Regions from separate parts of the Homo sapiens genome. Here regions 1, 2, 3, 4 and 6 are each reported to be linked to region 5. The links are microRNA targets in miRTarBase. Many come from high-throughput screens and were not tested one by one. Region 5 holds a microRNA gene; each other region holds the end of a gene's coding sequence.
Evidence for each region. The annotated mature microRNA hsa-miR-224-5p reads UCAAGUCACUAGUGGUUCCGUUUAG and lies in region 5 at 2,358-2,382, shown strand. An mRNA with a match to its seed (bases 2 to 7 or 8) in the 3' UTR can be bound and repressed. Matches are read on the target gene's strand: a 7mer-m8 pairs with bases 2 to 8, a 7mer-A1 pairs with bases 2 to 7 and ends in A, and an 8mer does both.

Region 1 (4,121 bases), not on the chromosome of region 5:
TCTAATCTAAGATTTGACAGGAAATGAAATAAAAATCAATTATAATTTCTTGTTTGTTTGCAAATCTAATTCTTTGTTAAAGTGAAGTCAATCAAGTAATTGTAAATAGAAAGCTCTACAATTCTACACTATATGCTTGGTAGTAGAATGTTCTGAATATATTTTAAAGGTGTTAATACTTATAAGCCAATTTATATTGTAATAGACAAGGAAAATAATATCAACTGTGTTTAGTTCATATATTATCTCTGCCAAAAAATTAGCTCTGCTGGAGATATATACATACATACTAGAGTGAAAAACTGTTCCAGTTTGCGTGGGACTGAGGGCTTCCCAGGACATGGAACTTTCAGTGCTAAAGATGGGACAGTCTTAGGCAAACCAGGACAGTTGTTCACTCTACACACACAAATAATATTATTTATATGTATATATATATATTACATATTTATTACACATACATCTTTCCTCCTAATAGCTTGAGTCATCTTGCACAATTACTTTACTATGCTGTAATATGGTGATGTCGCAATAAGTATTTGGTAAATGAAAATGTGTGACAATGTGCTAACATAAGCCAGCATGCTGATACTTCTCTTTAGATATTTTATCTCAGTTTTGCACATTTCTTATTTCCTCCTTTTGCTAACACCTATATATTCTCAAAGTCATTAAATGTTATTGCTTAGTTGTTGTTGTTTTTTTAAGTCAGATATCCAACTTCCTGAGAATTTGTAAAATGCATTTTCCAAGTTTAGGTTATGGGTGTTTTAGGGAGAATAAAGTGCGTAGTTGTTTTTGTTGCTGTTGTTGTTGTTTTGTTTTGCTTTTTTGAGATGAAGTCTCGCTCTGTTGCCAGGCTGCAGTGCAGTGGTGCGATCTTGGCTCACTGCAATCTCCGCCTCCCGGGTTCAAGAGATTCTCCTGCCTCACCCTCCTGAGTAGCTGGGATTACAGGCGCACGCCACTACACCCAGCTAATTTATGTATTTACTTATTTTGAGACAGAGTCTCACTCTGTTGCCAGGCTGGAGTGCAGTGCCATGATCTGGGCTCACTGCAACCTCCATCTCCCAGGTTCGAGAGATTCTCCTGCCTCAGCCTCCCGAGTAGCTGGGACTGCAGGTGCGTACCACCATGCCTGGCTCATTTTTTGTATTTTTAGTAGAAACGGGTTTCACCATGTTGGCCAGGATGGTCTCGATCTCCTGAGCTTCTGATCTGCCTGGCTCAGACTCCCAAAGTGCTGGGATTACAGGCTTGAGCCACCCCGCCTGGCTGTAGTTTTTTAAATTAAAATAAAAATTACTGGATCAAAATTAGATTGAGTGATCAACCAACTAAAAGATTAAACACGACAAAAGTATATTTTTCTCTCACGTAAAAGAAGTCCGTGGGCAGGCAGCTCAGGGCTGGCTAGATGGCTTCACAATGACCAGGAACCCATGCTTCTTCTGTATTGTTGCATGGGGTCTCCTGGTCTAAGATGGTTGCTGAAATTCCAGCCCATTACCATATTCCAATCAGACAGAAGGAGGAAAAGAATCACATATAATATTTCAGCGTTGGTCAGAACATAGTTATATGGCTGCATCAAGCTGCAAGTAATGTTGAAAAATATAGAATTTACTCTGAGTGGTCACATGTTCCACTAAAGCTAGGATTCTGTCATTTAGAGAAAGAGAGAAAATGAATATCTGGGAACAATTAGAAGTCCCTAGAACTCCTAGCTAGACTTACTGCTCTAACAGATGAAATTTCTACTTTTTTAACCCAAGTATTATTTTATTTTCTTCTATTTGTTTGTTCTTCACCCTAAACATGTAATTACTTAAAAAAATTAAAAGTTTTCTTATATTAAATTCTGTCAGCATATGAGTTTGCATTTATCTCGGCCTGCAACATCTGGCATCACTTAAACATGTATAATTCGTGTTGCAGCATGTAAAGGAATTTAAATCATGCCTAATTTTCTGCTTAAGTTTTGGGTCTAGTTTTCCTTCTTCCAGCTGGGAGTTCAAGTCATATAGACAATGGCTAGACAGGGACTTTGCATGTGCCCAGTGTGCCTAGAGCCTTGAATTATGTGATCTCCAAGAGTCTGAGACTGGCCTATCAGCCCCTAACTACAAGTGATTTTCTTAGAGGCTTAGCCTCGTTTGTGGGTTTCACAAGTGGAATGAAGCTATACTTATATGATGAACATACTCAAAAATTATTAGATTCATGGAATTTTATTGCTGAAAGGCACTGAGTCCAATCACCTCCTTTTACTGAGAAGAAGCAGAGGAGTTATGTAACTTGTCTGACACCTAGCTAGTTAGTTACAAAATTACTCCTGGTCCTATTCTCCAAACCTCATGAAGAGGAAATGTCCTGTGGTTGTCCATGCCCTATCTTTCAGAGGACATATCATCACTGTGGGCCCACAACATTTCAGAATCAGCTTTGTGAGGCCCTTCTATCAGCCCTCACATAGAATCTACAGGAGAATACTAGTGTGGTGGGGAAAAGTTACCTCCCCATCCACAGTGTGAAGGGGCTTGACCTCTCCCTTCTGAGTAAGGAAGAGAATGGGGTGTGCTTTCAGGGCAGGAGTTCTTTTCCAGATTCTTAGGTCTCCCAAATAACATTCCTAAGCCATGTCTTGCAGCATCATGTGTATCTGAGGAACTGTGATAATTCATGTTTGGTGTTTGTTTTTATGTTACACAGTACAGAAAGTTGTATAAGCTCCTAGAATTGTCAAATGGGAAGAGTCCTAGAGATTCTTATTTCATCAATTCCTTGATTTCTCAGCTGAGAAAACTAAAACCCACAGAGATGAATTGACTTGGCAGAGATAATATTTCTTGCTTATGATTTATAGGAAGCCAAACTTAAAACAAGTCTATAGTTGCTCATTCCTAACAATATTAACCATGCTGTTTACATAATAGTATCTGAAAACTAATTGCCTACTTTAAATGAAAAGAGAAAAGTACGAGTTTGCTCCAAAACATCTCTTAAATTTATAATTAAATGACGTGAGCTAGTTTTATAAAATATTTTATTTACAGTAGAGCTTTACAAAAATAGTCTTAAATTAATACAAATCCCTTTTGCAATATAACTTATATGACTATCTTCTCAAAAACGTGACATTCGATTATAACACATAAACTACATTTATAGTTGTTAAGTCACCTTGTAGTATAAATATGTTTTCATCTTTTTTTTGTAATAAGGTACATACCAATAACAATGAACAATGGACAACAAATCTTATTTTGTTATTCTTCCAATGTAAAATTCATCTCTGGCCAAAACAAAATTAACCAAAGAAAAGTAAAACAATTGTCCCTCTGTTCAACAATACAGTCCTTTTTAATTATTTGAGAGTTTATCTGACAGAGACACAGCATTAAACTGAAAGCACCATGGCATAAAGTCTAGTAACATTATCCTCAAAAGCTTTTTCCAATGTCTTTCCTTCAACTGTTTATTCAGTATTTGGCCAGTACAAATAAAGATTGGTCTCAACTCTCTCTTTCATTAGTCTCAAGTGTTCCTATTATGCACTGAGTTTTCAGACCTTCCCAACTGGCATGTGTTTTAAGTGTGAGTTTCTTTCTTTGGCTTCAAGTGGAGTTTCACAACATTTATGAAACATACTGAGCTCCTCCATGTGGCTGGATCTCTGTGACTCCCCACCCAACAATATTCCCCCGGATGTGACAAGACTCTGCTCCTCCGGTCTCTCTTATCTCTTCATTGCTAAGAACACTATCCCAGATATTGAAGCCTGTGAGTCTCCCAGAGAAGGCTAATGTTTCATCAAAGCCACCACCCACACAGCAGCCATTCTTTTCTTGGCCAATCTGCAGGATTCCTCCCTCAGGAACAATGTGACCTGTGGCCATCTCAACAGTGGTAGCCGCCAGTTCACCATTTACCCACAAGGATGTGAGCCCTTCCTCTGAATTCCAGGTGCCGCACAGGTGGGTCCACCTTCCCAGGGAAACCATGGCTTCAGCAACCAGTTTGTTCTCCTCTCCACCCACCACAAACACTATGGATTGGTAGCTGAGATACAGCTGGATTTCATATGGATTCCTCTTTGTGCCATAGGAAAACAGGAT
Region 2 (4,121 bases), not on the chromosome of region 5:
TCAAGGAGTTTGTCCAGAGTGTCCCCACCAAAGGCTTCAACACCGAGAAGATCCGGGTGCCCCTCGGGGGATCGCGTGGCATCACCTTCCAAGTGTGGGACGTCGGGGGGCAGGAGAAGCTGCGACCACTGTGGCGCTCTTATACCCGCCGGACAGACGGTCTAGTGTTTGTGGTGGACGCTGCGGAGGCTGAGCGGCTGGAGGAAGCCAAGGTGGAGTTGCACCGAATCAGCCGGGCCTCGGACAACCAGGGCGTGCCAGTGCTGGTGCTGGCCAACAAGCAGGACCAGCCCGGGGCACTGAGCGCTGCTGAGGTGGAGAAGAGGCTGGCAGTCCGAGAGCTAGCAGCCGCCACTCTCACTCATGTGCAAGGCTGCAGCGCTGTGGACGGTCTGGGCCTGCAGCAGGGCCTTGAGCGCCTCTATGAGATGATCCTCAAGAGGAAGAAGGCAGCTCGGGGTGGCAAGAAGAGACGGTGACCCAAGCCCCCCCTCCCTTTCCTCCCACCTAGTAGGGGTCTGCACACTTGGACAGCAGGGTGGGACCAGCCTGTGACCTCTCAGTCAGACTGGGGTGCAGGACCTGTCCACCTCAATGAAGGAGAGAGGAGCATGGGGTGTCCCGTTTTGGTGCCACACTGGGGTGGGGATGGGAGATGGGATGTCTTTGCATATCTCTCTCATCCTCTCTGGAGAAGTGGGCGCTGCAGGACTGTGGAGACGTAAATGTAAACTGTGACTCTACCTCGACCCTGTTTCTTATTTTTCTTCTCTGGCTAAAAATTTTTAATTGGATGTGTTTGGGGGCGGGGGGATGGAAGTGACTTGGAGAATGTGTTTGGGATGAAATAACTATCTCCCCTTCCTCTGTCCCCCAACTGGGGAGTCTCCCCAGGCTGCTTTTCTAGGAATACCAGTCACATAGTTTTTATTTTTGTGTCTGTGAAAGTGCCAAGAACCCCTCCCCACATTTGTAGATCCATGACCCTTTTTATAAGCTGTGTGTGTCCTCTGTATTATTGTTATTAACTATTTTTTAGCATTTGCCTGTAAGTTATTAAAGACTGATAACTGTAGCTCTTACCTTGGTCTGGGGCATTTTCCTCTCCTTATCTTGCCCCAGAGACAATTCAAGATTTCTATATGGGGTTGTGGCGCAGGGGGAGGGAGATTTATCTTGAAGCTGAATTTGCAAAGCAAGCACTTATAAAAATTAGATTGTGTGTTACGGGATGGCTTGTGAAAATTATAGGGGGGAGTGGAAAACCCCTCAAGCTATTGCCTGATCTCTGTAGTTTTTTGGGTGGGGTCACTTCCTTTTTCTCTGATTTAACACCCCTCCCCTCATCCTCTGGGTCTTACTTGTCCCTTATATCAACTGCTCCTTGCAGATTTAACTTCAAATTTTGCTAGTCTGAGCTACTCCTAGGTTCTTGACCTTGGTGACACCTAAGTCTATATAGGTAAGTCCTCAAAGAGCCATTCTGTTCCCATCCTCCCCACTTCCCCAGTCTTAGGTTGGTTTGATTTTTTTCCTCCTTGTAAGATGTGGTGAGAGTGGAAAGTAATTCCTCCCTGGCCTTAAGTCACCTCTGTGTACTCAATCCTGCTGACTGGCTCACTGGCATGATGGCAGCGGCTGGTGCTAGGGAGGCCTGGGCTGGATTGAGCCAGCCTGGCCCTGGTGACTAAGCCATGAGTTTTCCAGCTCTGGGAATGGTAGCTCTTCTCACGAGAGGGGCAGAAGTAGTAGCTGTTTGTGCTTGGTGGCAGAGAGGACTGCTGGACATACACCCTCCAGACTCCAAGATAGAAGGGGGAAGACATAAGCCCCCAGTATTTGTGGTGATTGTAAGAATAAAATGCTAATATTACAAGGGCTTGAGTGCCCCTACTCACCAGCACCAGGGCCAGCTATGTCTGATAACAGAACCCTTAGATCCTCTTAATCTTCTGGGTGGGAGCAGTGAGTAAGAACTAAGCACAAGGCCGGGCACAGTGGCTCACGCCTGTAATCCCAGCACTTTGGGAGGCTGAGGCAGGAGGATGGCTTGGGCCCAGGAGTTCAAGACCAGCCTGGGCAACATAGGGAGACCATGTCTCTAAAAAAGAAAAAAAACAAGCACAATTCTTTCCAGTTGTCGAGCCCTCCAGCCACCCCCTGCCACCTTTTGTGCAAACACACAATCCCCAGAGCAGGTTCAGCGTTCACACCCTGCTTCTCCCCAATTCTGTCTCCTCTTCTCCGGAATCAGATGAAAGGACCTGGGGAGAAAGAGAAGGTGCCGGCAACCCCCACTTCTGGGGAAGGTTTCCTAAAGAACTTGCTTCTTCCTACCCAGCGCTGCCAGAAGCTCAGATTTGGTCCCCTCCCCATCCCTGTAGCTGGCAGGATTGGGGTGAGTGTGCATTGATCCGGAAGGGTGCCCAAGTGTGCGTCAGTGCTAGGGCCTGCTTGACAGAACTGCTGGGCTGGTTCTGCTGGGAACATGTGCTACCTGCCCCTCCCCCAGACACACCTGCGACTCCTCTCCCAGTCTTTTTGGGGCACAGTCCTATAGCCCAAGGACAGGTTGAGGCCCCAGTCCAGGCTGGAAAGGAACTGGCCAGAACTGACCCTCTGTCCTGCCAGGAGATCTTTCCTCCCCACCCCACCCAAATTCTGCTCTTTTGTCTTAAAATCTTCAATTATACATTTTCATTTCTTGTCACTTGGTGTACTTAGGTCTCCAGATTTGGGGGAAGAGGTGCAGAGGTGTTCCCCAATCCCTAGCAGAGGGGCCTCCAAGATGTCAGCTCCTGATTCTGGCTCTTCCAACCACACTCCTTCCCTACCTGCTTAAAACAGGTATCTTCTGCTTCCCCATGCCCAGCCCTGGGGGCGGTCAGGGATCATGGTCCACAGGAGGCCTTTGAATGTCCCAGGCTCTTCCCCAGTCCCTCTGGCCTGACTGTCCAGCTGGTGGCACTAAAGGAAGATGGGGGCTTGTGTCAGAGAGAGACGGAGAAGCCAACTGCTCTGCCAGAGTAGTGGGGAGAGGGGAACACTGGGGAATTCTGAGTAGAAAGCCACAAATTGTGGCCGGGTCAGAGTCAGGAGCTTTGGAATAATCCTCCTGCCTTGGCTCATCAAAGGGACTGGAGAGCTGGAAGGGAAGGGATCACTTCCTATCTGCAGGATGAGAGAGGGAGAGAGAACCTCTCACTCTCCAGTCCTGCCCAGAGATTCTGCATTTTGAACTCAGGGCAAGGGCAAGGAATGAGGGTGTGATCAGGATGGAGAGTGAGGTTATATTTGCCCTGTACTGGCTTCTCTATTAAGTAGGATTTCTTCGAGACCCTGGCATGGGTGCTGAGGAGCTCTTCCTTGGGGGCCAAGAGTGGTGTGGCTGAGGCTAGTTGCCTGTAAAGTTGAGGGAAACCTGCTGTAGACCCAGAGTTCCAGAGTAGAGGCCGTTTTTTTTTTTTTTTTTTCCTCCTCTGTTACCCAGGCTGGAGTGCAGCGGTGCGATCTTGGCTTGCTGCAACCTCCACCTCCCCGGTTCAAGTAATTCCCATGTCTCAGCCTCCCAAGTAGCTGGGATTACAGTCACGCACCACCATGCCTGGGTAATTTCTGTATCTTTAGTAGAGATGGGGTTTCGCCACGTTGATCAGCCTGGTCCTGAACTCCTGACTTCAAGTGATTTGCCTGCCTCAGCCTCCCAAAGTGCTGGGATTACAGGCGTGAGCCACCATGCCCAACCCCAGAGTTGAGGCTTTCTTCTGAGCTGTCCTTCCCCACCCAGCCACCCCTTCTTGCACAGGTTGGAACATAAAATCCAGATGGAAGCCTTCCTTTCCTGGAGCTCCTCATCATGAGGGCAAAGATGGCAGTGGTCCCCCACTTTCCCATGCCCTTTCCAGTCCTCTCCATGCTGCAAGGGCTCAAGGAAGACAGAGGAAGGAAAGAAGTCCCTAAGGCCCAGAGTGGGCAGTGACTTGCCCGCGGATACACGGCCACTTAGCAGTGCACCCAGCTCCTTCCTCCCAGGCCAGGTCTTTGTACTCCCAGGGCAGAGGATAGGAGGTAGGAGACAGGGAGCGAGCACAGTTATCTCAGAGCTCAGATTCCCCCCTCCC
Region 3 (4,042 bases), not on the chromosome of region 5:
ATCCATAGCAGAAGGTGAAAAAGCATCCAAAGTAAAGGGAGTGTAACTGAAGGGGATTTCCCTGAGCCCCATCTCAAAGGAAGGAATTTAGTTAATAATAGGCTACTCAAGACAGCGAATGTCAATGAAAGTTGCAGATTGCGCCACCTGACTCCTCATCCCACACTATGTTTCAGCAGATAACAAGCCCCACTAATGAAGACTCATAATCAGAAAAGACCCAGAAGGGGACTGCTCTGGGTCAGGTTCTCTAGAAGCAGAGCCTCCAACAAGGATTCTTTGAAGAGTGATTTATTGAGGGAGCGCTCTCAGGAGAAACCTCTAAGGAAGTGAGAGAAGCAGGATCAGGCAGAGGGAAAAATTAAACATGGCTTCTGCTGAAGTCTAGCCTCAGTCTGATCCCATAGGGAGCTCTGAAGCATGACTGGCACCGGAGAAGTAGACTGCCCCACCTTGCAGCAAGGGAAAAGGCTTTGGAATTTCAAATCCATCAGTCACTGGCTGTGGGCCACACTCAGGTGAAGGACATAATTTCACAGGTATTTCTGGGTAAGATAGCTCCTGTCATGAGGGCAAATTCTCAGGAAAGAGTGCATCTGTGAGCCATTAGCAGCCAACACTCACAGCAGCTGGCTCATGAGTACAATGGCTTGGTAAAAGGCATCTGGGCAGAGCACCAACAACACCTACTATAGCAGCGGTTCTCAAAGTGTGGTTCCTGGGACAGCAGGATCAGCCTCACCTGAGAACTTGTTAGTAATGCAAATTCCCTAGCTCAACCTCAGATCTGTCGAATCGTAAACTCTGGAGATGAGAACCAAGAATCTGTGTTGCAGCAAGCCCTCCAGGTGATTTTGTTGCATGCCCAAGTTTGAGAACCATTGAACTACACTGGCCTATGGCTAGCAACTGTAAAACAAAAGGATTGGAATTGAACCCAAACCTCTTGCAGTCTCCTGCACATAGCCCTTTTCCCACCTTTGCCCTTGTAGTTCTCCTCACTTGAAATGCCCTTCTCCCTTCCCATCTTCTCCAGGCTCCCATCCCAAATTATGGAAGTACTGGGCATCTTTGAAGACCAGCTCAAATGCCACCAGCTCCAAAAAGCATTGTTGGATTCACCCAGCTCAGAGGATTGCTGTCTCCTCTGTGCCCTCTGAGCACTTAGTCTTCACTCTAACATATACTCCACCTTGAGTTATGGTCATTGGAGTGTATGTCTGGTCCCCTGTGAGATTAAGCTGCTGGAGGACAACAGCTCTTCCTCGTCCATCTTTGCATAACTCTGCACCCAGAAAAGAATCAATGCTCAATGTTTGATGCATTAAGTTGAAGAGAATCTAATTGGAAAGCCGGGGGTCTATTTTTGTCATTCTGAAAAGCTCCTCAGTTCCAGCTACTATTATTTAGTGAAAATGGGGAGATTTCTGTGCATTTGTAGACACGAATTGGAAGACCATCAGAGAAGTGATTCAGAAGAGGCTTGCCTTACATCCTGTCTCCTTTTGTGCAACTTAGTACTTAGGAGGAACAGTGAGTGCTCATCTGTGCTTCAGTCCCATCATTGTCACAGCTTCTCATTTTCAGTATAGCCTCACAAACTCATGCCTATGTTGGTCATGAGTGGCTTTGGTAGGATGGGGAATTTTTATTCAGCATCCATATTGTCTTGTCCTCCTTCCACCTCCAACCCCCCAAAAAAGGGCCCGAGGAAGCAGTTGTGGGACAATAATTATGATAATCGTAATAATAGCCAACACTTCATGACACTTTCTCCAAGTCAGGCACAGTTCTGAGTGCTCTACTCATGAATCTATGGACTAGGCACTATTGATACCCTGTTTTATAGGTCAAGATACCAAGGCAGCTTGATCAAAGTCACCCAGCTGGCAGGAACAGAGCTAGGACTCTGGCCTTGAAGTTAGAGATCCGGTTTGAATCTCGGCTTGTTACTTACTAGTTCTGAGAAGTTATGCAAGTTACTTAACTCTCTGAGCCTTGATTTCCTCATCTGTAAAATGGGGATAATCATCTCCTCTTTGAGATATATAGAGATTAAATGAGATAACATATCTGAAAGTGACTGTGCCTGGTAGATGATTAATAATAACTTTTTTTACGGAGTCTCGCTCTGTCACCCAGGCTGGAATTAAGGGGCACCATCTTGGCTCACTGCAACCTCTGCCTCCTGAGTTCAAGTGATTCTCCTGCCTCAGCCTCTTGCAATAACTATTTTTAAAATAATAAAGTGACAACATTAATAATATTAACTTTGTAGCAACTAAAGTATAGCTAAAGAGAATATGTTCTCATGCTAGCAAAAGGTCTCCTGATCCATTCTTTTATGTCATGTTATAAAGGTAATTTGATTCCAATGTGAAAAATTATTTCACTCCAGCAGGAGTTCATAAGACAAAACCACATTTAACATGTAACATAGGGCCTGAATGTTCTTCCCCCAAAATGAGGCCCTTTCAGCGTATGGTATTTTTGCTGGTCAGATTACACTGGGTAATCAGATACAAATTGGAAAAGAAAATGTAAAGATCACACGGAAGCCATCCAAAATAGCCTGATATATTTTAATAATTCTGTTATTAGTTTACTGCATCTTATAACATTTTCTTTTGAATCAAGTCACAGCCGTGTGTACTTTAGGCTGTGGCCATCATAAACAAATATGTAAAGACACAGAGTTAAAATAGATGAATACCAATGGCTATCCATCAGTTTGATGTAATCTAACACAAATGACCATTAAGAGACTTGCGAAGAAATCAGAGAAACAGAATTTCACAAATGAGCTTCTGCATAACTGAATGACAGCATTGCTGGTGCCTATTGTTTGGTTTGGTCAAGGTTATGCTTTTGGGAAGCCAACCCTCCCTTCTAGATGACTCTGTTGAAAAGTGAGGCTAGTGGAAGATTTCAGGGTACAGAGAGCTAGATTTCTATGAAATATATTCAAAGATGGTAAAGTGAGTACTCTCCTCTTCCCTGGTAAAATTAGGGATGTGTTACCATGGAAACTCACCCATCATCACCACCAATGTGGACAGGTTTAAATCTTTTGGCAAGGAGAGGATGACTGCCTCCTCCTGTTTCTAATCCCTCCTCTTCCAACTCCTCATCTCTTCCTAACAACTGGAATTCTTCCCATAATTGGTTCTAAAAACTAATTTAGTGTCTTAAATGATCAATTCCATAAATGCAAATTGGGTAAAATGAATTTCCCTAATAGAAGGAATGCCAGCTTGAATTACTTGGTATCAGAGTGGCTGGAGAGAGATACCGTACCTCAGAAGTGTGCCTGTAGAGTGCAACTGCTCTCTCAAAGACCGTGTGCAGGGAATGTGGTCTCCAAAGTGGGAGCAGTGTCAGGCTCTACTTTCTTCAACAGGGAACTGTTTCTTCAACAGGGAACTGGCCTGAACAGCTCAAGTGTTGCTTCATTTTCTGATAATAACAATTTGTCTTGATTGGGTGCTGTGGCCTGCATTCCTCAGCTGGGAGTTGTTTGCTTAGATCAGAAAAATCTGAGCTAGTGATTCAGCTAGGGACACAGGTCAAGGGTAAAAGCCAGCTGGGTCTCAGGGAGAGCTAAGCCTTGAGAAGCCCTCCCGTTGGTCACCTAGAATTGAGGTATCTGTCCAGATTAACTGTGGAGCTTTTCCAGAACAGCACGAACTTCCTCTGGGTTGTAGTTCCAAGGGCCAGATTTACCCTGCAAGAGAAACGAATCAGGCATTCCCAACTTGTAAGGATTTCCAAGTTGTAAGGAACATGTAGGTCTGGAGGTTAGTTGCAAGAGGTGGTCAAATGATGTCTGTGTAGGAGCCATCAGCATGGCTAATTCAATGGCAGATGCAACCGTGAGGTGGTTGAGAAAGTGTGTACAGTGGCATCAGCAGTTAACAGGAAGGTTGGACAGAGAAGTAGAAAAACTAGAGGACATAAAGTGACATAGTCTTTCAAAAAGAGAAGGGTTCTGTACAAATAAGCTTTTCTTCCATAATCAGACCTTCAGACTGGCCTAATCTTC
Region 4 (4,121 bases), not on the chromosome of region 5:
TAACCAGTGGTCTCTAAAGTGTGGTAGCACAGCAGGGTGTGGTGGCTCAACACCTGTAATCCAAGCACTTTGGGAGGCTGAGGCAGGAGGATTGCTTAAGAGCAGGAGTTTGAGACCAGCCTGGGAAATCTAGTCAGACGGCGTCTCTACTGAAAATGAAAAAAATTAGCCAGGAATGGTGGTGTGTATCTGTAGTCCCAGCTACTCAGGAGGTAGAGGTGGAAGAATTGCTTGAGCCTGGGAGGTTGAGGCTGTGGTGAGCTGTGATTGCACCACTGCAGTCCAGCCTCGGCAACAGAGCAAGACCCTGTCTTAAACAAAAAAAGAAGTGGTAGCACAAGATGATCCATTGCAACGAAGGGCCAAAGTGTTAGAGTTATGTTGAGCTTATAACCTTAGAGACATAATAAGTGGACTTTCACCAGTGCCCTCAGTCTGGGTCAGACGGGAAGAGTGAAGTGGGACACTCAAATGTTAGAAGTAATTAATCCTAGCACTTTGGGAGGCCAAAGTGGGCGGATCACAAGGTCAGGAGATCGAGAGCATCCTGACCAACATGGTGAAACCCTGTCTCTACTAAAAATACAAAAACTAGCTGGGCATGGTGGCGGGCGCTTGTTATCCCAGCTACTTGGGAGGCTGAGGCAGGAGAATGGCGTGAACCCGGAAGGTGGAGCTTGCAGTGAGCCGAGATCACGCCACTGCACTCCAGCCTGGCGACAGAGTGAGACTCCGTCTCAAAAAAAAAAAAAAAAAGAAGAAGTAATTACATACTTACATTATTATTTATTCCTACCCTGCTTTACATGTACTAGAAGACTTTTACATGAGGGAAGTAAGCAAAGAAGGTTGCAAGAGGATAACCTAGTAAAAGAACTCTGATGTCTGAATGGCTTCCCTTCATGTCTTGCTTCATTACCCTAACATTTTAGATAAAGGGAAATTTAATTCCTTGAACAAATTAAGTAGCATTTAAATATAAAGATTACTTTGATAAAAGAGTTAAGCCATAAAGATTATCTTTCTTGAGAATGCATTTAGAAGACCTAAATACAACTTTTTCTCCTCCTTGGCCAGAATACTGACATTCCCTTAATACAACTAAGTAAAAGTGTTCTATTAGGCCATGACAAAATAACAGTTCTGCTTGAACAGCAAACACCCAACTGATCATTTAAATTGCCTGAATTTTTAAAACTTGAATTTGATAGAAAATGAGCCAGGTTTTTCCCTGTTAGAAGAGATTGTTTTTACCTGTTAGAAGAAAATGCAGGCAACTTTGGGAAGGACGTGCAACTTTTATGGTTACGAAGCCACTATTTAAATAGTCTAACATGCAACTTACAGGTGCCAACTCCCTAGCAAGGCTTAACTTAGAAAAGGCCTCAATTATTCAACCACTAACAAAGTTCCTTTATTAGTAAGAGATGCTTTTAAAAAAGAACCAGATACTTTAAAGTGTTACATTAAATGCAAACTCTTCATCTATTTCAAATGAGTATTTTTGGAGTGTGGAATAGAGTTGTTCACAGTTTTCACTTCTGGTTTCTCATTCTCGATTATGCAAAAATGAACTCACAGAGACGAATTCAATTATGTATTTTGAAAAGTATTTACTTAGTTTAAATAAATTAATTGCAAATAAAAATTAAGCTACAATATATAGCCTGAATAAAAATGACTAGAACAAATACAACACAGGACTTGCTTTCTTGCATTAGTCACAAAGCATGTGACAATCTAGAAAACTTCAAAATCAATTACATTTCTTTGAAAAAGGGGTAACAGCAGTTACTGATACATCACAACTAATAAACTTATAATACAAGTTTCCTGACATGCATTTCCTGAGTGAACCCAAATGATCATTTTTTAAAACAAGGAAGTTTCGACAGTTGAAGTAAAATAAAATAATTCATGGCTTCTAAGCAACAAGTTTTGTTTTTTAAAAACCAAAAGAAAATTCAGAACAGTTTTGTAATAGGATAAATTAAAGGTATGCTACCACATATAAAACTTTGCTACAGTCAGTTAAGTATTATACAACTTTTCAAACTAAAGGAAAACAAATCAAAATATTAAAAGAAGATACTGTCTAATCTAAAAGTGTACTGGTTTCTACAAGTGTCAAAAAAAGATTTGATGTAGTGCAACTGTCTATACTTGTGGTGCCTTTGAAAAAAGGGTGGGAAGGAGGGGAGAGAAGAAACTTTTCTTGCTTCTGGAAGCAAAAGACATATTGGAATTAGAGAATAAACAGACCATGCAGTGCGTCACTCCACGCTGCAGTCATTGGTGCTCATCTGCCAACCAAACATTTCCTTAAGTCTCACTGTGGCAATCTCCTTAGGATTCAAACCCAGAGTTAAGGCTGGTCTGCTAAAAACGGGGGCACTATTGTCATTCAACCCTTTAGATCTCTAGATTTCCTAATGCCCGAATAAGGCCAAATACAGAATAATTAATTAAGCATTTCTTTTTCCAAAAGCAAATCAAGTCACTCTCCTTTCTTGCTAATTTATACTTTTTCTTATGGCAATGATTTTTTTCTAGAAACAGTGAACAGATGAACCACAGTTTATATCCAAAAAATAAACTTGCCAAATGCTGCTGATACTAAAAACAGATTAGTTATCATGGGAGAAAAATAGATAATCTAGATTAAATTGCATATCCAAAGGAGCATATAAAATGTTTCTTAGCATTAAGTTTTTGTTATAGTACTACGCTCGAGAGAAACATTAAGAAAAAATCTTTCCTGATTATCTTCAATGTTGTTAAAAACAAACACCTTTCACGCGGGTAATTAGTATGAATTTGGTCTTACAAATTACAAAGTATTCTAATTTACCAAATTCCATATTTAGATTGGGGTGGGGAGAGAGGCTCTCTCGTCCTTCTTCCTAACTTTGCAAATCCTTGAGCTAGGTTGCTCACTAAGCTACCATTCACACCAAGGGTGTGACACCATCGTTACCATGCTACTCTATCAAGAACATTCTAAGGTATTTTCTATAATAAAGATAAATAGAAAAAAGTTAATATACATGTCGCTGTATTTTACAATGTTTGCAACAAACTGTAAACTAACATAGTTTGAACCAACAGTACCCTCAGTTATACAAAACAATTTCAGCACTGAGGATAGGTGATTCAAAAACACTAAAAGGAAGGCATCAAATTAGACTATGTCTTTTTCTCCTCAAAATATATTTTCAAAACTCAGAATTCAGAAGACTGATACTTTCAGAAATTCCTTTGCTTGAGTTTCCCAGATTTTTGCTCAGAAATTGCTACTATTTATTATAAATGTTTTAAAAAATTCTTCATCTTAATGCAAATGACCAGAGCAGAAAAACTGTGACGTGGACAACAGGTTCGAAAACCCAACTCACTTAGCTTATAAATTTATAATGTAGTCCTGCAAGACAATGGTCTGTTAGTCTAGAGGTCCTTGAAAAATAAGTCTGATGTAGCCTTGTTCACCAGCCAACTGATGTGCACAAAAGGGACAGGCTGCATGAAAAGTATGAGTACCATGAGGAAGTGGGATCTGGGACCAATAGGCAGTTGTCTTTTCTGAACACACATGCCCACACGGGCTAAACGCATGGGTTGGAGGGCCGGCGTCCACATAAAATCCAGCTTCACATCCAAGCCACAGAGGAACATAGGGACCAACAGACCTACACATAGGACATTCACGATCTTTTCCATCACGTTCTTCTTTGTTTCCCCAGTTATGATAGCCATGTACATGGCCGCAGTTTAGATATACCCATGGTTGTTTTTCATCTACAACGTCTTTCCTCTTCATACTAGGAAATGCTAGTGTGTTGAACCCTACAGGGCACTGAGGTCGTGCTGCATTGATTTCCTGTCTTAAAGCTTCTAAATGCTTCACGGTAGGAGTGTGGGAAAGGCCTTCTGCAGTACGCCATAACAATGTTGCACCACAGAGGTCAATTAACGAGCCATCTTGTAACTGATTGGTTTCAATTTCCACCTAGAGGAGACAAGAGTTGAAAAACATATTCACCACTCTGTTTTGGATTTTTACATAAGTGTTTTGGTTTTAAGTACTCCTTACTCAAGAAATGAGGTTTCCTAGGATTTTCACT
Region 5 (4,000 bases):
GGACTTTTGCCACATCTTCACTTTGAAACTGCACATGTCCAAAATGAAATTCATTGTCTCCTCCAAACCTCTACCACCAAAACAAGTGTGTTGCTTCTGGGTTCCCATCTGTCTCATTGAAGAGGACCATCACTCACCCAGTTGCGCAAATCAAGAACTTTGATGTTCCCTCTCCCTCACCTCCTGCATCTAATCAATCAGCACATCCTGTTGGTGTTTCCTCCCAGTCTCTATCGATGCTGTCTATTTCTCTGCACCCTGTACAGCTTTGACTTCCACCTGCATTAATTTAATTCTGCCTGGATTACTACACTGGCCTCCTTGACAACATGTTGTCCTCACAGAAGGACCAGAGTGACCTAGCTGAAGGGTCACCTAGGTTGGGTCACTTCTTAGTCTCGAATCTGCCGTTAACTCTCATGGATCAATTTGAAATTCCTTAGAATGAACCTCAAGGCCATTCATGAACTGGACCCTGCCACCCAATCCTGTGCACCTCATCCTCTGTGAGCTAGCCATCCTGAACTTTTGTCCTTTCCACAATACACCAGGTGTTTCACCTTTCTATACTGCCCCTTAACCCCTTCAACCTCATTCTTATTGAGAATATTTACTTGAGTTTCAAGATTTAATGGGAATATCACCTGCTTTATGAAGTCTTTTCTGAGTATGTCCCCAAGTGACCTTTATCTACTTTGTTTCCCCGCTGTTCTGTGGACATAGGTTTTTCAGAGCTCCTCCAAAAATCACAGTAGTATACTCACTGTCTTATAAAATTAAATGTGATTGCTTGAGGGTAGGGTTCATGCCTTGCTCATCTCTGTATTTCTGGCCTAGGGCCTGATACTGAGGAATGCTCAGTAAACGCACTCATTGAATGGACTTCAACAATGAGGTAAGAGAGGCAAGGTCCCACAGCTGGTGAGGCCAGAGACAGGACTCCAAGGCATTGTGCAGGCTGACTTCATGCTATTGGAGACCTCAGGTGGGCTTCCAAGTCTCATAAGACCCTCTTTCTCACATTCCTTTCCAGTTTCCTATCCTGAGAATGAGATGATCTACAAGTGGGAAAATTTCAAGCTTGAAATCAATGAGAAGAACTCCTGGAAGCTCTTCCAGTTTGATTTTACAGGAGTGAGCAACAAAACTGAAATAATCACAACCCCAGTTGGTAAGCGTGCCAGGGCTTGGCGGAAGTCCAGGAAGGTGGTAGGGATGATTGGAGATGGCCATCCATACAAATGCTTTGCAGTCATCCCGTGCAAACATTGTAAGACATGGCTCCTGTCTTATAATTGCTAAGCACTTACAACTGTTTGCAGAGGAAACTGAGACTTTGTAACTATGTCTCAGTCTCATCTGCAAAGAAGTAAGTGCTTTGCCAAGCTCCTTGAGAGGTTAGGTAAGTAGATAAAGTTCTGCTGCTGTCGGAATGTGCAGCTGGCTTTTTCATGCAGACCCTTCAGTTTCGAGGTTACAACTCTGACCTCTTTGGATGACTTTGGGGAATGGAGCTCGTGTGAGTTCTCCATACCCAGAACCAATCCAGTCTGGTTGAATGGGAAGCAAAGTCCATTGTAGTGGGAGGTGGAGGCTAGAGTTCTAATGTCAGCTAGTTTAAGGCTGGGAAAGTCTGGAGGAAGTTACAGCAGCTACACTGGCTGCTGCATTGACATTTATCTTAAAGGAACAAGTCTGAAAAGCACAGATTCTTATCAAAGGCTTCATGGTGGATTCCACATAGACATAGTGGCCACTGGTTTTCTGACCTTTTCTCTGACAAAGACTAAAGGGGAAGGTCCTGGGTATCTTACACTTCAGCTCCCAATTAGATGTGAGCACCTTCACTTATGTTCCTAGGTGACCTGAATGAGGAGCCAAGGGACCTCCCCAGGGTAGCTCCCAGAGCAACCCTGGAAACACTCTTCACACATCCTGACCAAGTTCAGGGCAGTGAAGGCACTGCCCTCATCGTTTCCAGAATGTGGATGGAGCCAGTCACCCAACCAGCCATTTGTCGTGAGAGGCATCTTGTTCTGCTACCATGTGACTAGGCAGAAAATCTGCTTTTGTTTCATTTATTGAGTCAGTCTCTGGATGAGGGAAAGCTCATGCTCATGTGGCTAGAGCTTTGCTTGCACAGTATTAGGCAGGGGCAGAGGGCTGGGCTACCTTAAAAATACTTGCCCTTTTTCTTGGGGACTCTGGGGAAGCGGTTTTACTACCTTTGACTTGGGAGCCTTGCTCTTCTGCCAGCTAACCATGGGCCTGCCTCTTGGTTTTCTGCACCTCAGCTTTTCCCGGATAGGTGGGGACCCATCATCAAAAGTGACAGAGAAGATAAGGCCCAGGGGCTTTCAAGTCACTAGTGGTTCCGTTTAGTAGATGATTGTGCATTGTTTCAAAATGGTGCCCTAGTGACTACAAAGCCCCAGAGCCAGCATCATCATCAAAGCAATGACAGTAGGTAAGCACCAGACCTCCTTGGGAGTGAGGAGGATTCTTGAGGAGAAAAGAGGTCTTCTTTCTCCTCTGCTGGAGACTAGTTGATCTGGAGACGTGGTTCCTTCAATGTCAGAGTTATCTTTGGGACTGGTCTCAAACTCTTCCAGTTGGGCCCTGGGGCAGGTCTCTCCATCTGGAGCATACTTACGTGCTCGGCGATTAAGGGTTCAGAATGCAGTGGTAGCCTGCTACTCTGGCCATCTTGGACCTTGATCCAGAGAATCTCTGCTTCAGGAGCTTCTAAGAGAGTCCAGCCCTGCCTCCAGAGAGAGGCTTGCCCTTCACTGATGGCTGTGGAGCCTCTGATGGAATATTATTGCTGGTCAGGAATTCACTGTCTTACAAGGAGGTTTCCTTCTTCTCTAGACAGTTCTGTTCATCAAAAAACTCTCCCTGTTCTTCTGAAATTGGAGTCTCTGGAAGTTCCACACATTAAGCTTAGTTCTTTTTCCTTGGAACTGTCCAGGTTACATTAGTCCAGCCACTGTTTCACAGGACCGAGATTAAACGATCAACATCATCATTCCCGGCATGGATCATAGTCTGTTGTAGTCTACATAGCCCTAGTTTATTTTTCTTCCCTTATTCTTCAAAGCTTTGGGTCCATTCATTCTTCTAGTCCCAGTCCTCTGGACATGGTCTATTTAATTGTGTCCCTCTGACACTGCAGTGACCAACCATGATCTGGTCAAAGAGGATAAGAGTTTGAGCAGAAAACCATCTTTAGCATATATTTTTTTGCTTTGGTTCATCAGCCCCAGATATATTGTTTTCCTTACCCGTGCTTCTCTCACTCCTCAAGAAGAAGAAAGTGTGTGTTAGCATCTTTCTCTTGTCCTTCAAGACAAATTGGCATCTCTTGACGAGCGGAGAAGGTTCTTTTTTGGCCAGAATAAATAAAATTAAAATAGAATCATCCAACAGAATAATAAATCTTCGTGCAACAAGAATATATTATATAAACCCAGCAATTTTGCAGGGCCTGGGTATAACTAATTAGAAGTGTCTTAAATTGCAGTCAAGATCCCACGGCAAGAGGACTTTTGATAAATACATTCTGGCCAGTAGGCAAGTGCGAGGGTGGTCCGTGCAGCAGCTCTGGAGGAGTTCTATCCCAAAGCTATACTCAACACACAGGTTTCCCACTGACAACAGGTCGCTCCCTTGCCTTCTTCCAGAAGAATCTGAGAAGCTTTGCTCCTTGAGTTTCAGTGCTGCCAAGGTGAGTACGAAAGGCTGCTCTTCTCATTCAGCTCCAGCCCACCCAGACCTGCTGGGCAGTTGATCCACTTTCCAAAATAGGAGGACACACGGACAGGTTAGTGTTCTGGTCTGCTTTACAAAGCTGTTGCCTGACAGGAGCAAGAGTTGCTGAGTGTCTGCTGGGTTCCAGGCTGTTCTGAGCTTGGATGGGCAGGGGCTAAGCCACAGGGCCTGCATGAGCCCTGCCTTGAAGGGACTTAAAAGACGACCTAATTATAGGCCTAGGAATTTT
Region 6 (4,121 bases), not on the chromosome of region 5:
TTGGCTCCCCGACGAGGACATAGGGACGTGGCTGGTGCAGCTCAGCTACCCAACGGATGACCTGCTGCATGTCAGGCTCCTTCTGCTGCCATTTCTCACCCTCCCTGCTCCCTCCCGACCAAGGGTATTAAAAGGTATGAATATTGTCCCAGGTCCAAAGTAACAAAAAATTTAAATAAATTTCTAGGCATGTGGCCTGGTCTGCAGAATGAGAGCCTTCTTGCTGCGCATTGTGGTGATGGATTCAATCACAAAGCTCTCAGTGGTTTGCAAAACTCAATGCAAATTCTAATCCTTAGGAGAGTCATCTTTCTGCCTGTGTTTTTTCCTTGCTTGTCCTTCGGTCTCTGCCAATTTCAAGGAGACAACGTGTCACATGATTCCTTTTAAAGTCAGGCTCTGGCTGGTGCTGCTTTTCCTACCCACTGCCCATCTGCCAGCTCAAAAGACAACCTGAGTGCTGGGTGGGGTGGGGGAACCGCCACAGTGAGTGCTCAAGTAAGAACAGAAATATTTGACTGGACTGGGTCCTAACAGAGGCGATTTTATTACCCTAAATGTCCTGGAAACCCTGTTGCCTCTGGCTCGAGAAGACTCCAGGCTTGGCCATTCCCGGACGGCCTGCTGCAGCGAGCCTTGGCGTCCTTCTGCAAGTGGCTGTGACATGAGTCATGGGGGCAGTCTCTAGCGAGGCTGAACAAGAGGTGGGCACAGAGCAGGAAGGTTGCATCTTCCTCCCATCAAGGGTGAGAGACTAGCAGGCTGGCAATAACCACTGGACCCCCTGGGGCTTATGGTGGGGACCAAGGAGTCAGCATCAGCAGGAGGAGGTTGACCCCAGGGGGGACAGGTCAGGCCAGTCCAGGCCCTGACAGAAGTGACCCTCCTGTTAACTGCTGAGCAGTGCCCGTAATATCAAAACCAGACTTTGCCTTAGGATGGAAAGAACACGCTGGGTTCTTTCTTACCATCCCTCTCATTTAAAGGAGCAGTGAGGTACAGGCTCCTAATTCTTTCCCTTCGTGAAAGTCGCCTCTTTTATTCAACAAGGGAGCCTCAGGCATGCTCTTATGGTGGTGCATGAATGTCACAAACAAAGCTGACTTTATTTTTATTTGAATTGGCCAAGTAAAATGTTCCATACAAGGCAAACAGTTCAACATGAAATATTTAAATTAAAAATAAATTACTTCCATCCTATATAAATCTCTAGCTGCCACATACAAATGAAAGATACCAGTTATAAATGAAATAAGTTAAAATAAATGGTTGTAAGGAGCTAGGTGTGGTGGCATGTGCCTGTCATCCCAGCTTTCAGGAGACTGAGGTGGGAGGATGGATCTCTTGAACCCAGGAGTTTGAGACCAGTCTGGGCAACACAGCAAAATCCTGTCTTAAAAACAAACGTAATTGTAGGATCCTCTGTTACGACCAGCATAGGTTACTGGTTTGCTCCCTAACTTTGTTCTGGACTCCAACATCTCTATTGAATGAGACTTTTGAACAGTCCTCTGGGATAGCCCCTTCTTAAAAGAGCACTTGATGCCCAGGTCTCCAAATCACTTTCAGATATGAGGATCTGGTGTTCAGAGTCTAAAACAATGGTTGAAGAGCAGAGATAGCAAGGTGGAATCCCAGAGGCCCAGGCCTCTCAGCCACCCTCTCGCTTCTCATGGATTCACCTGGAGATATGGAAATAGGGAACTCAGCAAAAAAGCAAGACATAGGCACAGAGCGGCAGTCACACATAGCAGTTGAGTCTGAGACCTGTAATGTGGCCAAACACTTCTTTGTATCAACATATGGCAATTTCCAGCACTGTCTTAGGCTAAATTTCCCATAGGATCTCTGGTTTTATTAAGTGGGCTAGATTAATTTAAACCTCTGAATTAGAAAACAAACCTTCAGGGGCAGAGTTTAGGCCACAGATGACAAATATACAAGGCATGTGTCACTAATCCCTCCATGGGCAAGAATTACTAATTGACCACAGCATTCTTCTATCTCAGATTCCATCTTTACACAGTACTTCGGGCAGCCTCTACCCATCAATCATGTTTAGTGTTTGGGATGAAAATCATTTATTAACCTTGGTCCTTCTCTATGTTCTGAACTATTTTGTGTGAAGGAGTAGCTCTAACACAGGCATTGAAGCCTGACACTCACATAAGTTAGGTGCCTTAGTCTAATCATTTAACCTCTTTGAATTGGCATCTATTAAGTGGATAGGGCCACCTAATAGAGTTTTTAGAAAGATTAGGATGATATATATAAATTGCCTAGTATCATGCCTGAAACATAGGCATTTAATAGATGATAGCTATAAGTATCATTATCATCATTATTATTATGTTATTGTTTTAAGGCTACTAATGTTGACAATGGAATTGATGATGACATTTTCACTGATAGAAGAAAAGCATAGTATCATATATGAGGTTGAACCATATGAAATTGATGCTCAATTGTTTTTGACCTACAAAAATGTCAACTTTTTCTGGTTCAAGCTAACATATAAGATATAATAGTGTATTTCATTCAAATCCCTTACTTGTTCCAACATATCAGAGTCTTCTTTTCAATGGTTGCCCCCAGAGACACACTCTCACCATTTAAAAACTTCCCCAAGTCAGTTGCTAGAGAGTAGGCAAAGCAGGGAGTCCACTGGAGAGAAGTTAAGGACCTGCTGTCTGGTTCCACTACCTGGTATCTGGTCCTGTAATCTCTGAAGGCCTCCATTTCCCCCTCTGCAGATTGGGAATAATTGTGCTTTCTTCCACAGGGGTTTTGTGAAGATAAGAGATAACGGATGAGAAAGCACTTTCAAAAGTTCAAATTATTATACCAAAGCAAGGGATTATTGATTCCACTAGACTATGCCACTTCAGAAAACATTAGCAGTCAACATTTAACTTTTAATGTTTTTCTATAGAAAAACTGCACATAAAAGAATAGAGAATTCATGCAATCATGCCAAATGGCCATGAAAATCAATCTTGAGTATACTCTCAAGTGGATATTAGAACTACTAACTTTATATATAGTGCTTTGTCCTTGAAAATTGTACCTTGTCAAGGTGAAGTAAATGCAGTAATGGAAACAGTAAGAACCATTGTGTTTACAAGTGCCTCAAAGTCCATTTACACTAGAAAATCACACACTTTAGAGCAACTCACAAGGAAGACAGAGGAATTGCTTTTTTCCTTCCTTGGAGGTCTTTAAAATGAGCTGGGAAAGTTTAATTTTTTGCTTAAAGATAGAGATACAAACTTTATGACCTCCCAAAGTCACTTTCAGACCAATGGCTTTAGCAATTCTAAGAAGGGGCAGTTTTATATTGCCTTCGAGGGACATTTCTTTCCTGTGCCCTATCCCAGGGTAATCAATGAGTGAGGGAGGATAATGGGTTTGGACCAGCTACTAGCAGAGGTGCGTGTGGCTCAGTTTCAATCCTGAAGGTTTTTCCTCTTGTCCGGGGAACCTTGGCCAACACAGGGCACTTGAAGAGGGTCACCTTTAGTCGGCCTCAAAGGCGCTGTTGGTGGCTCCCACATATTCAGACTTCTTCTTGTGCCTTGTCCACATTTTCCGGAGGATGCCGGGGACGCCGCAGGAAGCACTGCCTGTCAGTGGTAGAGAGGCTTCTGCTCCTTGGGGAAGGGCTGGATACTCTTCAGTCATCTTCTTGAGATGTCTGGATCTAAAGAAAAGCCAGGAGTGGGTGGGGAGGGTGGTCTGCTCACAAGCCAAACTTCATTTTTGCCCTTAAGAAGAGTGGCCAGAGCTCTCTCTCCTCTGCTCCTCCTCAGTGACCGGGATCCACGTAGCTGTAAGGTCACTGTTGGGACCCTCACAGGAACGTCTTCCCTTGGGGAAAGCTTCCCATGGCATGAATGGAGGAGGTGACCCTGAACACACTGGTTCATGGGATCTCAAGTTCTGCTACTGTCCCCCTGCTCTGGGTCTGGTCTTGCCAAAGGCTCTGCATACCTACCCCTTCAGCCTCTATGTGAACAAACTTGCTGGAAAGGACAGTTCCCCAAACAGTAGCTATTGAAAGAGCATGAGGTCTGGGATGGAATCCTGCTTCCCATCTGCTGTGTGACCTCAGGCAAGTGACT

Region 1: the mRNA of PTX3 is a reported target of hsa-miR-224-5p. The part of its 3' UTR that is shown has no 7-base or 8-base seed match.
Region 2: the mRNA of ARL4D is a reported target of hsa-miR-224-5p. Seed matches in the 3' UTR shown: 7mer-m8 at 821-827.
Region 3: the mRNA of DIO1 is a reported target of hsa-miR-224-5p. Seed matches in the 3' UTR shown: 8mer at 2,633-2,640.
Region 4: miRTarBase lists PELI1 as a target of hsa-miR-224-5p. Seed matches in the 3' UTR shown: 8mer at 2,493-2,500.
Region 6: the mRNA of VXN is a reported target of hsa-miR-224-5p. Seed matches in the 3' UTR shown: 7mer-m8 at 2,626-2,632.

Annotation. Positions count from the first base shown.
Region 1 is chr3:157,442,500-157,446,620 of GRCh38, reverse strand. It overlaps PTX3 (pentraxin 3), which reads right to left. Exons shown (of 3, transcript NM_002852.4): 3 at 2,988-4,121. The coding sequence ends at 3,642. All of the region lies in intron 4 of VEPH1 (ventricular zone expressed PH domain containing 1), which reads left to right. Among named protein-coding and RNA genes, the nearest start is that of PTX3, 7.7 kb to the right of the region's middle.
Region 2 is chr17:43,399,860-43,403,980 of GRCh38, forward strand. It overlaps ARL4D (ARF like GTPase 4D), which reads left to right. Exons shown (of 2, transcript NM_001661.4): 2 at 1-1,278. The coding sequence ends at 479. Among named protein-coding and RNA genes, the nearest start is that of ARL4D, 2.9 kb to the left of the region's middle.
Region 3 is chr1:53,909,613-53,913,654 of GRCh38, reverse strand. DIO1 (iodothyronine deiodinase 1) reads right to left here. Exons shown (of 4, transcript NM_000792.7): 4 at 2,569-3,724. The coding sequence ends at 3,656. It also overlaps a transcript of IFT25 not described here. Among named protein-coding and RNA genes, the nearest start is that of DIO1, 17 kb to the right of the region's middle.
Region 4 is chr2:64,091,263-64,095,383 of GRCh38, forward strand. It overlaps PELI1 (pellino E3 ubiquitin protein ligase 1), which reads right to left. Exons shown (of 7, transcript NM_020651.4): 7 at 1,390-4,006. The coding sequence ends at 3,440. Among named protein-coding and RNA genes, the nearest start is that of PELI1, 51 kb to the right of the region's middle.
Region 5 is chrX:151,957,010-151,961,009 of GRCh38, reverse strand. MIR224 (microRNA 224) reads left to right here and starts at 2,352; the gene lies at 2,352-2,432. GABRE (gamma-aminobutyric acid type A receptor subunit epsilon) reads left to right here. Exons shown (of 9, transcript NM_004961.4): 6 at 1,034-1,171. It overlaps MIR452 (microRNA 452), which reads left to right and starts at 1,298; the gene lies at 1,298-1,382.
Region 6 is chr8:66,515,472-66,519,592 of GRCh38, reverse strand. It overlaps VXN (vexin), which reads right to left. Exons shown (of 6, transcript NM_152765.4): 6 at 1,069-3,700. The coding sequence ends at 3,517. The region is part of intron 1 of LOC124901955 (a long non-coding RNA gene); the gene reads left to right. Among named protein-coding and RNA genes, the nearest start is that of VXN, 24 kb to the right of the region's middle.